Linked DNA regions of Homo sapiens. The gene in region 2 interacts genetically with the main gene of each other region. Each region holds a gene or a part of one and is shown on either strand. Other genes may lie near its edges. The genes, in order: RBL1 and NOD2.

The links.
Region 1: changes in NOD2 (region 2) and RBL1 together harm fitness less than expected from each alone (positive genetic interaction), as found in Homo sapiens cells (one study listed by BioGRID).

Annotation. Positions count from the first base shown.
Region 1 is NC_000020.11:37,064,079-37,072,632, forward strand, and holds part of RBL1 (retinoblastoma-like protein 1), read right to left. Parts: intron 4,109-8,554; coding exon 3,908-4,108; intron 3,220-3,907; coding exon 3,155-3,219; intron 3,044-3,154; coding exon 2,915-3,043; intron 2,807-2,914; coding exon 2,646-2,806; intron 1,396-2,645; coding exon 1,346-1,395; intron 1-1,345. UniProt on the Homo sapiens protein: Key regulator of entry into cell division. Directly involved in heterochromatin formation by maintaining overall chromatin structure and, in particular, that of constitutive heterochromatin by stabilizing histone methylation.
Region 2 is NC_000016.10:50,723,889-50,732,442, reverse strand, and holds part of NOD2 (nucleotide-binding oligomerization domain-containing protein 2), read right to left. Parts: intron 6,955-8,554; coding exon 6,871-6,954; intron 5,029-6,870; exon of another isoform or gene 3,993-5,028; intron 3,431-3,992; exon of another isoform or gene 3,293-3,430; intron 2,626-3,292; coding exon 2,542-2,625; exon of another isoform or gene 2,490-2,541; intron 697-2,489; coding exon 624-696; 3' UTR 1-623. UniProt on the Homo sapiens protein: Pattern recognition receptor (PRR) that detects bacterial peptidoglycan fragments and other danger signals and plays an important role in gastrointestinal immunity.

The DNA.
Region 1 (8,554 bases), on a different chromosome or scaffold from region 2:
TTCCAAAGTGCTGGGATTACAGGTGTGAGCCACTGTGCCCGGCCTTAATTTCTTTTCTTTCTTTTTTTTTTTTTTTTTGAGATGAGTCTTGCTCTGCTGCCCAGGCTGGAGTGCAGTGGTGCGATCTCAACTTACTGCAACCTCCACCTCCTGGGTTCAAGCGATCCGCCTGCCTCAGCCTCCCAAGTAGCTGGGACTACAGGCGTGTGCCACCACACCGAGCTAATTTTTGTATTTTTAGTAGAGACCGGGTTTCACCATTTTGGCCAGGATGGTCTCAATCTCCTGACCTCGTGATCTGCCTGCCTTGGCCTCCGAAAGTGCTGGGATTATAGGCATAAGCCATTGCACGCCTGGCTGAGTAGCTGTTTTAAATGCCAATTGGCCGGGTGTGGTGGGTCATACCTGTAATCCTAGCACTTTGGGAGGCTATGGTGAGAGGATTGCTTGAGGCCAGGAATTAGAGACCAGCCTGGGCAACACAGTGAGATCCCATCTCTAAAAAAATAAAAATAAATACGTAAGTATCAATAATTTTTTTTTTTAATTGAGATGGAATCTCGCTCTGTCGCCTAGGCTGGAGTGCAGTGGCATGATCTCAGCTCACTGCAGCCTCTGCCTCCTGGGTTCAAGTGATTCTCCTGCCTCAGTCTCCCAAGCAGCTGGGATTACAGGTGTGCACCACCACACCCAGATAATTTTTGAATTTTTAGTAGAGATGCGGTTTCACCATGTTGGCCAGGCTGATCTCTGGCCAGGCTGATCTCAAACTCCTGACCTCAAGTGATCGGCCCGCCTTGGCCTCCCAAAGTGTTGGGATTACAGGCGTGAGCCACCATGCCCGGCCTCTTTCTTTTTTTTTTTTTTTTTGGAAATAGGGTCTCACTCTGTCACCTAGACTGAAGTGCAGTGGTGCAATCACGGCTCACTGCAACCACAACCTCCCAGATTCAAACGATCCTCCAACCTCAACCTCCCAAGTAGCTGGGACCACAGGCTCACACCACTACGTCTGGCTGATTTTTGTATTTTTTGTAGAGACAGGGTTTCACCATGTTGCCCAGGCTGGTCTCCAACCTTCTGAGCTCAAGCAATCTGCCTGCCTTGGCCTTCCAAAGTGATGGGTTTACAGGTGTGGGCCACCGTGCCTGGCCTTGATTTCTTAAAATAAATGTATTTAAAGCCAACAAGTCTTAGTGATAATAAACATTCAATGCCACTAAAGCAGAGAGAACTTGAATTTGGAGGTCTTACTTTGATATACTGTTATGCTTAACAAATTTCAACAAATCAACAAATATGACAGCTTGTGATAAGCCAGGCACCATTAGTACTAGATATTTACCTATTATCAGTAAAACTTGAAAGGTCCAGGAGGCATTCTCCTTTTAATATCTGTGAACAAAAAATTATTTTGGGACACCATATAATTAAGCATATTAATACACACACAAACGTGAAATTTATCTAAATTTCCATATTGTTATAACACACACACAAAACAGAATTATTAAATATTTCTTTCAGACTAGGATAAACTATTTAGCATGCAAATAACTTTTTTTTTTAACTTTTTTTTTTTTTTGAGACAGGGTTTTGTTCTGTCACCAGGGCTGCAGTGCAGTGGTACAATCATGGCTCACTGCAGCCTCAGCGTGCCAAGTAGCTGGGACTACAGTTGTGCACCACCATGCCCAACTAATTTTTGTATTGTTTGTAGAGACAAGGTTTTGCCATGTTGCTCAGGTTCGTCTGGAACTCTTGGGCTCAAGCAATCCACCTGCCTTGGCCTCCCAAAGTGTTGGGATTACAGGCGTGAGCCACCGCGCCCAGTCCCTGGGATCCTTTAAAAAAAGTTTACTTTGCTAGAGATGTTTAGCATACAGACAATGGGCCATAATATAGATATCTGAGGAACACAAGACTGAATACAAAAATTTGTATAAAAGAAGAAGAAACCAGTAAGGGAAGAATTTATGCTTAAAGAAAAATCTCATAATATTTGAAAAGTGGGATCCATAATCCAAACCCCTCCTTTTACCAAAGAGAAATCTTGAGGCTTAACTACATTTAATGGCTCGACGTTGGGGAAATAAGAAATTGAAACCCAAAGGAACAAGCCAATTCATAAATGTAGAAATAGCTAAGTTAATTACCAAGGAGACAATGTCCAGAATGCACACAGATAGCCTACAAGTGGCTACAAAACTATCATGGATTTTCTGCTCGATTTACATGGAATTAAAACTGTGGTTGTTATACATCATCCTACTTTTAGTCAACAGTCAGCAGTTATTCAAATTGTGGCAGTAAATTAGTCAGCTTATTCTGACCTCCTGTTTTTCCTAATTATTTGTCAGCCCTACTCTGATGTTCTATTCTTTACAATTCTTTATCAGTACCTCCTACGGTTGCCTCTGACAGTACATTTACCCAACAGTACATATAGTTGGTCACATTTTTCAACAGCTCTGTTTCTCACATCACACAAGATCATAAGGAAATTCTGAATCACAGTAGAGGCTAAAGCCTGGGAATCCTGACCCTAAGTTCTATAATGCTGAGAACTTGCTTAAAACATTTTTTTCTTTTCACATTACTGGTGATCTGTAAACATCTCAGTCATCTAATTATAAGTACAGTACCTTCCTGTCAAAGAGTTTTGAAATATATGGCTTAAAGTAGTGCTCCTTTATTCCTTTTGCTTCTACGAGAAGTCCATCATGCAGTTCACACAGTACAGCAATGATGCAGGGTGGCTCTTCAGAAGCCGTAAAGTCAGCAGTATGAAAATCAGATGGTAAACCTAGTTTGACAGTGTAGGAAGGGCAGAGGGAAAAAAAAATAGTCAACTTTTAAAAATCTTTTTCCAAAAACTGATAATCAGTTTTCAAAAATAAATAAAAGGTCTTACCTTTAAATGATGGATTTAGCAAGTCTTGTCTATTTGGGCACATAATCGCATTGGCAAAAATCAGATCCAAGCAGCATAGAAGTAAATGATAAGAGTTTACTAAGTCATCCCCAATCATCCGAAAATTACCTTTATAAGGGAAAAAAAAAAAAAAAAGACACAAAAACCAGAAACCTCTCATGTCAAATAGCACCAAGTTCCCAGAGTAGAAATGTAAGACCACTGAAAGTGTCATCTTACCCTTAGTATAAACAAAAAGTGTCCAACAGAAATTAAACAGATCCTTAACACTGCAAGGAATCCTCCTAAAAAGGGAAAAAAATTACTTTTTGTCTGACTAGCTCGCTAAATATCATGTAAACTGAAATAGTAAATGTAAATATCAAATAGATCAAATTACACATGAAATTCCATTCATGAAGAAAAGTAATCTATTATTTATGAAATGGACTTAAGTAAGCCTTTCCAACCTGCATAAAATAATCAGAACATAGGGCTGGGTGTGGTGGCTCATGCCTGTAATCCCAGCACTCTGGGAGGCCGAGGTGGGTAGATCACCTGAGGTTAGGAGTTCGAGACCACCTTGGCCAACACGGTGAGACCTGGTCTCTACTAAAAATACAAAAAATGAGCCAGACGGGGTGGTGCACACCTGTGATCCCAGCTACTCAGGAGGCTAAGGTAGGAGAATTGCTTGAACCTGGGAGACAGAGGTTGCAGTGAGCCGAGATCAGGACACTGCACTCCAGCCTGGGCAACAGAATGAGACTCCTCAAAAAAAAAAAAAAAAAAAAAAAAACAACAACAGAAAGAAAAATAAGTAAAAGTATTATCCTGAATTTCCAAATATGGATAATTGTACATGGATTTAAAAAGAAAATAATTAAGTTCTTTGCAGGAATACTTTTCATAAAAAACAGACTTTCAAAAAAGTATATTCTCTTAGTTTGTATCATAATCTTTATGTCAATTATATAAGGATTAAGGGCTCACCTCTGCTTCCGGCTTCGTGGTAACTTTGGTGGTTCTTCATATGGATTTTGAAATATATCTAAAAAAATTGGCTCATATTTTTTGAATATTACAGTAGACACCTCAAAATTTCTCTCTAGCCTTTCTATACGTTCACGAAATTCTTGTGGTAGATTTGACATGTCCATCCATTTCTTCATTTTACTAAAAAATTGTATTAAACTAAAAAAAAAAAGGAGGAGAAAAAAGGCACCTTTAAAATTCATTTAAATAATGGATTGAAAGGAAATATTCTATTCATGACTAAGACTCTTTATTAAAAAGCCAGATTTCCCAGGCAACATAGTTAAGACCCCATCTCTACAAAAATTTAAAAAATTAGCTGGGTGTGGTGGCATGTGCCTGTAGCCCCAGGTACTTGGGAGGCTGAGGTGGGAGAATTGCTTGAGCCCAGGATGTCGAGACTGCAGTTAGCCTCAATCATGTACTCCAGCCCGGGTGACAAAGCAAGACACTGTCTTACATGAACAAAGAACAAACACCATCCCTCAAGCCTAAATTTAATTAAAAAAAAAAAGTCCTCACTATGAAATCACTTTCGTTCCCAGGATCACCAGGGGAATACAGGTTATTAATTAGTGGTCATCACATAGAGTTTACTGCTATGGAGGGAGCGAGAGCACCTATCTACTTCCTTTATTCTCTATATTACCTAGACAATATTTTGCATAAAATTTACAAAGTTAATGTTAGTTAACAGATTGACAGGTTATAAAATTAGTTTGAGATCACCTGAGATCGGGAGTTCAAGACACAGCCTGAGCAACATGAAGAAACCCCGTCTCTACTACAAATACAAAATTAGGAGCTCTCCCTCTCCCTCTCCCCACGGTCTCCCTCTCCCTCTCTTTCCACGGTCTCCCTCTCATGCTGAGCCGAAGCTGGACTGTACTGCTGCCATCTCGGCTCACTGCAACCTCCCTGCCTGATTCTCCTGACTCAGCCTGCCGAGTGCCTGCGATTGCAGGCTCGGGCCGCCACGCCTGACTGGTTTTGGTGGAGACGGGGTTTCGCTGTGTTGGCCAGGCCGGTCTCCAGCCCCTAACCGCAAGTGATCCGCCAGCCTCGGCCTCCCGAGGTGCCGGGATTGCAGACGGAGTCTGGTTCACTCAGTGCTCAATGGTGCCCAGGCTGGAGTGCAGTGGCGTGATCTCGGCTCGCTACAACCTCCACCTCCCAGCCGCCTGCCTTGGCCTCCCAAAGTGCCAAGATTGCAGCCTCTGCCCAGCTGCCACCCCGTCTGGGAAGTGAGGAGCGTCTCTGCCTGGCCGCCCATCGTCTGGGATGTGAGGAGCCCCTCTGCCTGGCTGCCCAGTCTGGAAAGTGAGGAGCGTCTCCGCCCGGCCGCCATCCCACCTAGGAAGTGAGGAGCACCTCTTCCTCGCCGCCATCCCATCTAGGAAGTGAGGAGCGTCTCTGCCCAGCCGCCCATCGTCTGAGATGTGGGGAGCGCCTCTGCCCCGCCACCCCGTCTGGGATGTGAGGAGCACCTCTGCCCGGCTGCGACCCCGTCTGGGAGGTGAGGAGCATCTCTGCCCGGCCGCCCCGTCTGAGAAGTGAGGAGACCCTCTGCCCGGCAACCGCCCCGTCTGAGAAGTGAGGAGCCCCTCCGCCCGGCAGCCGCCCCGTCTGAGAAGTGAGGAGCCTCTCCGCCCGACAGCCACCCAGTCTGGGAAGTGAGGAGCGTCTCCGCCTGGCAGCCACCCAGTCCGGGAGGGAGGTGGGGGGGGTCAGCCCCCCGCCAGGCCAGCACCCCCATCCGGGAGGGAGGTGGGGGGGTCAGCCCCCTGCCAGGCCAGCCGCCCTGTCCGGGAGGGAGGTGGGGGGGTCAGCCCCCCGCCCGGCCAGCCGCCCCGTCCAGGAGGTGAGGGGCGCCTCTGCCCAGCTGCCCCTACTGGGAAGTGAGGAGCCCCTCTGCCCGGCCACCACCCCGTCTGGGAGGTGTGCCCAACAGCTCATTGAGAACGGGCCAGGATGACAATGGCGGCTTTGTGGAATAGAAGGGCGGGAAAGGTGGGGAAAAGATTGAGAAATCGAATGGTTGCCGTGTCTGTGTAGAAAGAAGTAGACATGGGAGACTTTTCATTTTGTTCTGTACTAAGAAAACTTCTTCTGCCGTGGGATCCTGTTGATCTGTGACCTTACCCCCAACCCTGTGCTCTCTGAAACAAGTGCTGTGTCCACTCAGGGTTAAATGGATTAAGGGCGGTGCAAGATGTGCTTTGTTAAACAGATGCTTGAAGGCAGCATGCTCCTTAAGAGTCATCACCACTCCCTAATCGCAAGTTCCCAGGGACACAAACACCGCGGAAGGCCGCAGGGTCCTCTGCCTAGGAAAACCAGAGACCTTTGTTCACTTGTTTATCTGCTGACCTTCCCTCCACTATTGTCCTATGACCCTGCCAAATCCCCCTCTGTGAGAAACACCCGAGAATTATCAATAAAAAATAAATAAATTTAAAAAAAAAAACATAAAATAAAATAAAATTAGTTTGAGGGAAAACAGAAGTCTCCCAAATGGAAAGACAATTCCATTTTCCAAATGGGAATTTGATTACAAAGCACCAGATTGTTACAGGTTAGGAGTAAAATTCAAGAGTTTGAGTTCCAATGTGTGGTTCCACAACCAAAAGTAAAGAAGGTAGCACATACTCAGAAAAAAACTTAATAGTTCTGGTGCCCAGGTTGGAGTGCAGTGGCACCACCTTGGTTTACTGCAACTTCCACCTCCTGTGTTCAAGCAAGCCACCGTGCCCAGGCCAATTCTGGGTACATTTTTTTATGTCCCTATGTTAACGTGGTCTTAGATAGAAAACTTGTCATGTCAAAGCTCACTTAATTAAAGGTCTAGCAATATATACAGAATAATACTTGTAATTTTTTTTTTTTGAGATGGAGTCTCAGTCTGTCACCCAGGCTGGAGTGCAGTGGCATGATCTTGGCTCACTGCAACCTCTGCATCCCAGCTTCAAGCAATTTTCCTGCCTCTACCTCCTGACAGCTGGGACTACAGGTGCACACCACCATGCCTAGCTAATTTTTGTATTTTTAGTAGAGACAAGGTTTCACCATGTTTGCCAGGATGGTCTTGAACTCCTGACCTCAGATGATCCACCTGCCTCGGCCTCCCAAAGTGCTGGGATTACAGGCATGAACCACTGCACTCGGCCCTATGTTCTGATTATTTCATGTAGATTGGAAAGGCTTACTTGAGTCCATTTCGCCTGGCCAATACTTATAATTTCTTTTTAAGGTGACAGAAGACATTAATAGCAAATCATCCAAAGCTATTTAATGTGGTTTGGATGTTTTGTCCCCTCCAAATCTCATGTTGCAATGTAATTTCCTTGGCTGGGCATGGTAGCTCATGCCTGTAATCCCAACACTTTGGGAGGGTGAGGCTGGAGGATCACCTGAGCCCACCAGTTTGAGACCAGCTTGGGCAACACAGTGAGATCTCGTCTCTACAAAAAATTTAAAAGTTAGCAAAGCATGGTGGTGTGTGACTGTGGGCCCAGCTACTCAGGAAGCTGAGGCAGGAGGATCACTTGAGCCTGAGGGGTTGAAGCTGCAGTGAGTCATGAACATGCTACTGCCTGGGCAAGAGAGTGAAAGCCCGTCTCAAAAAAATAAAAAAGAAACGTGACCTCCAATGTTGGAGGTGGGCCTAGTGGGAGGTGTTTGGGTCATGGGAGCAGATCCCTCATGAATGGCTTGGTGCTCTCCTCATGGTAGTGAGTTTAGTTGTCACTCACCTGAGATCTGGCTGTTTAAAAGTGTGGCACTTCCCACCCTCAATTGCTCCTGCTCTCATCATGTGATGTGCCTCCTCCCCCTTCACCTACCGTGACTGTAAACTTCCTGAGGCCCTCACCAGGAGCAGATGCCAGCCCCATGCTTCCTATACGGCCTGCAGAACCCTGGGCCAAATAAATCTCTTTTTTTAAATAAGTCACCCAACCTCAGGTATTCCTTCATAGCAACGTAAAACGTCCTAATACAGCATTCAAACTCTGGACATGCTGATATAATCTGAGACTCTTAAGGACCTCATTAAAAGATTCTTACCAACAGCAGCAAAAAATTTGTCAGATTACTAAATATTTTTTGGCTTACAAAAAATTATGCTCCCTTACAGAGGACTTTAAAAATTTTGTTTTTTGGCCGGGTGCAGTGGCTCACGCCTGTAATCCCAGCACTTTGGGAGTCCGAGGCAGGTGGACAACCTGAGGTCAGGAGCTCGAGACCAGCCTGACCAACATGGAGAAACCCTGTCTCTACTAAAAATACAAAATTAGCCGGGCGTGGTGGCACATGCCTGTAGTCCCAGCTACTCCGGAGGCTGAGGCAGGAGAATTGCTTGAACCCGGGAGGTGGAAGTTGCGGGGAGGTGGAAGTTGCGGGGAGGCGGAAGTTGCGGTGAGCTGAGATCGCACCATTGCACTCCAGCCTGGGCAACGAGAGCGAAACTCCGTCTTAAAAAAAAAAGACTGTTTTTATTTTTGGATGATCACATTTTGCATGTGAAACCCTCTGCTTTGAGGACATTTCCACTTTTGAGCCTTGTCTACCACTAAACAGATCAGCTTTACTGGAAGCTAGGATGAA
Region 2 (8,554 bases):
GCCCTTCCCACCCTGGGTGCCAGGGTTGGGGGTGCTGTAAGTGAAATATCAAAGCTGAGGTCACTAATATTCTGAATTTCAGCCTCAGAGGAAGGAGCGTGTGCAGGAGTCCAGGAGGAGGGGAGGAACCAGAGACGGGGAATGGCCTGGATGGATGAGTCGAGACATGGGGAAAGCTGCTTCCTGAATTATGTGTTCTGTGTACTCCTCTTCATCAGAGCAGTGGTAAGGGGTCTTTTGTGAGAGGCCGGGCCTCTCCACCAAAAGGCACTCAGTTAACAAGCACATCCATGGGCCCCACTGACCCACACGGAAGCCTGGGAGGATCAGCAGAGGCCAGTCCCATACTATGGAGGAGGGGCTGTCCTTGTACATCCTGGGATTGAATCTTGGGAAGAAGTCAATGGCAAAAGTAGGCTTGGGAAAAGTCTATCCTGGAGGGCACTGATGCTCCCTCCTCTGCCAGAATAAAGGTGACCTATGGTGTTCCCAGAAAACAAGTTCAGCCTTAGGCAGGACAGGGCTCATTTTGAAGAGGCTGCCAACACATGTCACCCAGCCTCTGGGGCCCAAACTCACAGCCTGCTCACAAACAAACTGAGACGAACATCCTCCCGGAGACTTCAAAGCAAGAGTCTGGTGTCCCTGCAGCCGAGCTTGTCAACCTCCTCTAGAGAGAAAGTGTTCCCTCGGAGCCTAAAGCAGATCAAGTGAACAGAGGTTTGAGTGAGGACAAAATTAGAGCAGGGCTTTCAAACAAAAGCCTCCACTTTTTAAACCCATGCCTGGGATGGGCTGACTCTCTGGCCCAGCTGCAGTGTTTCTTGCAGGGAAGTCAGGGCTGTTTTTACCCTTGGCCAACCAGGGCAGCTCAGGAAGCATTCTGAACAAGGCTCCATGACTCTGCAGAGAGAGTCCACAACACTGCACCCAGCCAGCCACAGACTCCCCAAGGCCAGTGATTCTTTTTAAGGCAATAAGAGAATCTGTCAAGAATGCAATGAGCAAACCCTGGTGCCCTCCCAAGTTCCATCAACAGGCAGCAAATAACATCAGACCCCTTAAAATATCAACCTCATGTTGGCTGGTGCCCAGGACCCAGAATGTGATGTTTCTTAGGACTGTGCAATGGTTTCAAAAACAAAGAAACAGAAAACCTACACTTTGCCCAGAACCTGATGACGTCATAGGCCACAGAGCTATCACAATCATACAGAAGGAAAAATCTCTCCATCACAGCATAGATTTTTGAAGTCACTTTTAAATTTTTTATTTTTTTAAGAGATGGGATCTAATTCTGTCGCCTGTGCAGTGATGCAATCATGGCCCACTGCAGCCTTGAACTCCTGGGTTCAAGGGATCCTTCCATCCCAGCCTCCCAAGTGGCTAGGAACTACACCGCACCCAGCTGAATTTTTTATTTTTTGAGAGACAAGGTCTGGTGTTGAACCTCTGGCCTAAAGTGATCCTCCTGCCTCAGCCTCCCAAAGTGCTAGGATTACAGGTGTGAGCTGCCACGCCCAGCAAAGCTTTTGTTTTTAACTTCATCATTTGATATCTGCATTCGCTGCAGCCTTGATGTGCTTTTTGAGAGAAGACAAGGCCTGCATATTTAAAGCAAGGGTCACAGGCTTATGGGAATGAGTTGCCAAAGGGTCCTGGTCTAAGACAATAGGCTTGGTGGATCTGCAGTCAGCCAGAGTGGGTTTGCCCATCTGAGAAGACTCAGCCCTTCTTGTACTCTGGTTAACTACTGGAATCATGAATGGGCATCCAGAGTTCCCAGCTCTTTTGAGAAAACCCTGAGATATAGATTTTCTATAGGAAATTTCCTGGCTTTTAAATATTAGTCTCTAGCCCAGTGCCTGGAACATATATAGTAGCATTCACTTACAGCACATTAGGCCAGGGAAAGCCTTTACTTATTGTCTGAGAAATAGATCCCTGGAAACAAGAAGGACAAATCTTTGAAGCTGTGGCTCAGCAGAGAGAAAGTCTACAACACTGGACCCAGCTGCCCAGACTCCCAAGGCTAGTCATTCTTTTTAAGGCAATGAAAGAATCTGTCAAGAATGCAATTCTTGCTTTTTTCAATACATGAAAGTCTATGGCTTTAATTATAGAGAATTGGAAACACTGTGCAACCTGCTCCTAACCTGTGTAATCTCCATTCAGAACCGCAGAAGGTCTGATCCAATATCCTTGACCTGTGAAGGCAGATGCAATTTCTAGGAGGGCGGGAGCTGACTTTTCTTTTCATTCTTCAACCACATCCCCATTCCTACACTATCTCATAGAGCAGAGAAGTTGCTGAATAAATAGTCAAGGTTTAAAAATGAAATCATTGCTCCCTACTTAAAGAGGTAAAGACTTCTTTCTTAGACAGAGAATCAGATCCTTCACATGCAGAATCATTCTCACTGAATGTCAGAATCAGAAGGGATCCTCAAAATTCTGCCATTCCTCTCTCCCGTCACCCCATTTTACAGATAGAAAAACTGAGGTTCGGAGAGCTAAAACAGGCCTGCCCAGGGGCCTTACCAGACTTCCAGGATGGTGTCATTCCTTTCAAGGGCCTGCAGGAGGGCTTCTGCCCCTAGGTAGGTGATGCAGTTATTGGACAACCTGGAAAAGAAGATACAATGGTGAGCTTCAAGGATTCTTGGTTTTCCTCTTGAAACTGTCCAGTTAAAGAGACTGCAGGAGTTAGCCAGTCTACTGAAGCCCACCTGTCCCTTAGACACATCCTGCTCATGTCTGAGATTCCCAATGAGCTCATCAACAAAGGCTCAGTACCATCAGTGAAATGTAACCGTCTCTCTTCCATTCACTAGATGAGTTTATCAAATTAAGTAGCCACTCCCTTAGGATAGTGGTTAAGTACCTGCATTTTAGTGCTAGACATCCTGGGTTTAAATCCCACCTACACCACTTCTTTTTTGATCTCGAGCAAATTAGTCCCAATCTCCTCATTGGTAAAATGGGCCTAAAAGAGTACCCGTGCCATCGAGCATAAGAATCTAAATTGTGATGGGTGTAAGCAGGCTCCTATTCACATCCACCATCCATCTCCTTGTGGCATGGGTCCTGGGCCATTAAGTCAGCCACCAGTCCCCCATTACCTCCCCACACTCTGCTTGCTGGGAAGACCCACCACTCTCTGCATGCCTAAAACACTTGCACAGTACTTGATATGGTTTGGCTGTGTCCCCACCCAAATCTCTTGAATTCCCACGTGTTGTGGGAGCGACCCAGTGGAAGGTAATTGAATCCCATCCTGTTCTCATTACAGTAAATAAGTTTCATGATATCTGATGGTTTTAAAAAGGGGAGTTTCCCTGAACAAGCCCTCTTCTCCTGTCTGCTGCCATGTGAGATGTGCCTTTCACCTTCAGCCATGATTGTGAGACCTCCCCAGCCACGTGGAACTGTAAGTTCAATAAAACTCTTTCTTTCATAAAGTGCCCAGTCTTGGGTATATCTTTATCATCAGCATGAAAACGGACTAATACAGTACTTAATTGATAGAAAATAACCAATGAGCAGTAATATTTCTATTTTCAGGGGGGTCTTTGAGGGCACAGAGACAGAGATTAGAGAACATATGAGGTAGCTGACAACAGGGAGGGGAGACAGGATAGGGCCAGGGACAGCAACAGAGGAGTCATGTGTTTCCCAGGTTGCTCTTTTGGTTACAGCTTTGCCTTCCAATAATGTCCACTCCAGGTCCTCCCCCTTTCCCACAATTTCAGGAATGTCTTACAAGTTGACCCTAAGGCAATGCCAATTGTAATTGCCAGTATTTATTGAACTTCTATTAGATTGGTGCAAAAGTAATTGCAGTTTTTGCATTGTTGAAATTTGCCATTTGATATTGGAATACATTCTTAAATAAATGTGGTTATGCTATACATCATTTTAATGCACAATTCTCACTTTATGATTTTTTGCTAATGACTTAATACTTTCTGTTTATTTTATATTTATTTTAGACTATGAAAATGATGTTAGACAAAAAGCAAATTCAAGCAATTTTCTTATTTGAATTCAAAATGGGTTGTAAAGCAGCGGAGACAACTCACAACATCAGCAATGCATTTGGCCCAGGAACTGCTAACTAACGTATAGTGCAGTGGTGGTTCAAGAAGTTTTGCGAAGGAGATAAGAGCCTTGAAGATGAGGAGTGTACTGGCAGGCCATCAGAAGCTGACAATGACCAATTGAGAGCAATCATCAAAGCTGATTTTCTTACAACTACTTGAGAACTCAACATCGACCATTCCATGGTCATTCAGCATTTGAAGCAAATTGGAAAGGTGAAAAACCTCGATAAGTGTGTGCCTCATGAGCTGAGTGAAAACCAAGAAAATCGTCATTTTGAAGTGTCATCTTCTCTTATTCTACACAACAACAGCGAACCATTTCTTGATCTGATTGTGACGTGCGATGAAAAGTGGATTTTATACAACTGGCAATGACTAGCTCAGTGGTTGGACCGAGAAGAAGCTCCAAAGCACTTCCCAAAGGCAAATTCGCACCAAAAAAAAAAGGTCATGGTCACTGGTGGTCTGCTGCTAGTCTGATCCCCTACAGCTTTCTGAATCCCTGCGAAACCATTACATATGAGAAGTATGCTCGGCAAGTCAATGAGATGCACTGAAAACTGCAACACCTGCAGCCGGCATTCGTCAACAGAAAGGGTCCAATTCTCCACGACAACACCCGACTGCATGTCACACAACCAAAGCTTCAAAAGTTGAATGAATTGGACTATGAAGTTTTGCCTCATCCGCCATATTTACCTGACCTCTAGCCAACTGACTACCATTTCTTCAAGAATCTTGACAACTTTCTGCAGGAAAAATGCTTCCACAACCAGGAGGATGCAGAAAATGCTTTCCAAGAGTTTGTTGAATCCCGAAGCATGAATTTTTATGCTACAGGAATAAACAAACTTATTTCTTATTGGCAAAAATGTGTTGATTTTAATGGTTCCTATTTTGATTAATAAAGATGTATTTTAGCCTAGTTATAATAATTTAAAGTTCATGGTCTGAAACCACAATTACTTTTGCTCCAACCTACAACTCACTTTTGTTAGCTACATTCTCTCAGTGAATGCTCATGGCCTATAATGAAGGTCCAGCCATTATCTCCATTTACACTTGAGGCAACTGAGGCACTCATCCAAGAAGAACTGGCTGGTAATGGTGGAGCAGGGGTAAGACCCAGGCTGTCTGGTTCCAGAGCCTGGACTCTTTTTTTTAAATTATTATTTTTCTCATCCTTTTTTTTTTTTTTTTTGAGATGGAAGTTTCTCTCTTGTCCAGTCTAGGGTGCAATGGTGTGATCTTGGCTCATGGCAACCTCCACCTCCCAGGTTCAAGTGATTCTCCTGCCTCAGCTTCCTGAGTAGATGGGATTACAGGTGTATGCCACCACGCCCGGCTAATTTTGTATTTTTAGTAGAGATGGGGTTTCTCCATGTTGGTCAGGCTGGTATGGAACTCCCCACTTCAGGTGATCCACCCGCCTCAGCCTCCCAAAGTGCTGGGATTACAGGTGTGAGCCACTGCACCCAGCAAGCCTGGGCTCTCAACCAACTCTTGGCAGAAACTAAGCCTGGAAAAGAAAGATGTAGGCATTTCTCTTTTTTATAAAAGATATATCAGAAGTTCAATTTTTGTGGGGGATGATATAGTTTAGGATGCTGAAAAATAAGGCTGATGACAGGGTGGCATGGGACCAACCCCAGCCTCATTGCCTGGCATCCATGGGAGTCAAGTGGAGTAAGGCTGTGACAAGGAGGGAAGACAAACCTGCCATATCCACACCTGGTTGATAATGGGCTTGGTATTCCCAAAGGCCGACCCTCAGTGCAAAGCTGGCATCTGGCTCAGACACATCCGGGCTTCACCCCAACTTCCCAGCCCATTTCCACCCAAATAATTAGTGGAAGTGTTTTCTCCAAATATTTGGAAACTTCCTAGCTTGTGAAAGCAACACAAATGAGTGTCGCCAGAGTGGGTAGCAGCCTGGCAGCAAAGCTGGCACTCACAGAGGCAGCTGTCTGTCTGTCTGTCTCTAAAGGCAAGCGTTTTCCTAGGACCACATTTGCCTAGGCAGATGCCACTTTCCTCCAGCAAAAGGAGCCATCTGATGGGGTTCCTGAGGTCTACTTGAAATAAGAATTTTGGCATCAGCCTCAGAGAGCACCCTGACAAACCCATGATGGTCACTAGGTGGGTTCATGTTCACCTGAGCTGTCCATCTCTTTGTGGCACAAGTCCCAAGCCACTGAGTCAGCCACTGGAGGAGGCCACAGTACTCCCCATCACATCACCTCCCCAGCCACTGCTTGCAGAGAAGACCTTCCACTCTCTGCCTGAGGCCATTCTCCTGACCCCAGAAGCATGTTCAGCTGGGTGAGGGTGAGCTGGAAGTGCTGGAGAATCAGTGCCCCATGAGCGCACATCAACATAGGAAGGACAGAGGGTTGGTGGATAAATGCCATGGCTTTCTTGCCCATTGGTTGGGTAGGTGACCATGTGTGTTCTGCACTGGCTCCAGGAGTGCCCCAGAGTACTGAGCTCCAATTTCCCTCATTGATAACTGGCTTGATAACTCCCCTTTATTGGTTACCTTCACTTCCCCATCTCACTTCACCACTCTCCTATCAGCATTTACTGGGACCACCTCCCAGATAAACAACTTGCACTGGAATCCTTGTCCACCTAGACCAAGGCAAGCTGTTCTACCAGGCCACCTCACATGAGTTAGCCCAGCGGAGAGCGGCCCAGATCTTATTCAGAAATGCCCCTTCCAAAGGCCAGCAATTATTGTCCTGTTTCCTGCTTATGGGTTCCTTACTTCAGGATTTTCAAACTTGAATTTTTCTTCAGTCCTTCTGCGAGAGAACATACACCTTCATCCTGGAGATGGTTCTCCTCCAGGCTGGTGAGAAGAAGAGAGAAAATCCAGTTGATACAACATTGATTATGGAAGATGATGAACTCACATGCCCCCCATATAGGAAATCCAACATCTGAAAACCCAAACTCATGGATAAAGAAAGAACAGATAAAGTACGTTGTGGGGATTCTCAATTCCAGGGACATATTTGCAAGAGAATTCACTCCAAGGGCTCTCAATGTAATAAGTTCCCTGATCCCCCAGCTTCCTGATCTCCATCTTTCCTTTCTTCCTTATTAATGGAAGTCTCATTTCATTTGGACAGCCATGCACTTGGTGAAAAAACTGTATTTCCCACTCTCCATTGCAGCCAGGGCTGGTCAAACAACATACAAGTGGGTTGGTCAAGTGACATACACATGGTTGATACATAAGGGGAAGTCGACAGGTGGGGCTTCCAGGAATGCTTTTTAAAGGAGAGAACCCAGATGGCTTTCCTGGGTATATAGATCGAATCCGGGAATACAGAAGTAGTGCTGCACCTGGAGCAGCCATCCTGTGATCATGAGACAACCAACCATGTGAATGAAGTCACAGGCTAAGAATGATGGAACAGGAAGAGAATGAGACAGAGCTGAGACCCCTCCTGGCCTCTTGTAGCCACTGTACAAACCCTACACTGCCTACATCCAGCTGCCTATACAGGAAAAAATAAACCCTTTCCTTGTTTAAACCTCTATAGATGGAGGTATTCTGTCACCTGCAGCTTAACATATAGTTAAACTAAATTTGGCCTGAGACTGCCTCTGTACTTTGAGTTCCTATGTAGCAAACTGCAACCTAACAACATATCCTTATAACAAACAGCTAAGTCTTAGCCAATCACAGCAGCCAGGCTTCAGTCAGTCACAGTCTACCAGCTGATCAGTCTATATCCATATAAAGAAAATGCCTCATCACACCATGCCCATATAAGGCAAATGCCCAGCTGCAACCAATCAAGCTGTTTTGTACATCACTTCCTTTTCCTGTCTATAGATACTGCTTGCCTACCTTGCTGGGTGGAGCACTCCCAGTTCTGAATGCTGCCCAATTCATAAATTGCTGTATGTTCAAACCAGTTCTGCTAAATTTAATTTGCCTAAAGTTTTTCTTTTAACAGTAATCATAACTGATGCTCTCATAACAAGGTTCTCCTCTACTAAGAAATTCCAAGTGGCAAAATCCAGTCAGGATAGAATCAATCATACTTGAGTAGAGCTAGTAAGCCCTGCAACAGCCAAGGTCCATCCATAAAATCTGTTTATGGCAATGCCCATATGTTGCAGTGCCTTTCTGCTTCCCGGGAAAATCAAACATTCAGTATTTTATCTCCCTGACATAATCTGAAGCTGCCCAGAACATGTCAGAAAACTATACTAGTGGCATCTAAAGGATGAGAAACTTAGAATCTGCTTCAGGTCAACAGTATAAGCATGATTCATGGTTCCTCTTTCAACTATCAAAACTCCATTACACCTTCCAAAATGACCTAAGACTTGAATACCCAGTGCTCCTAGGAACTCAAAATCACTTTAAAATAACAAAACTTTATTAGTAGTAGTAGTCACAGTACTATAGTAGTTGTAGCAGCAGCAGCAGC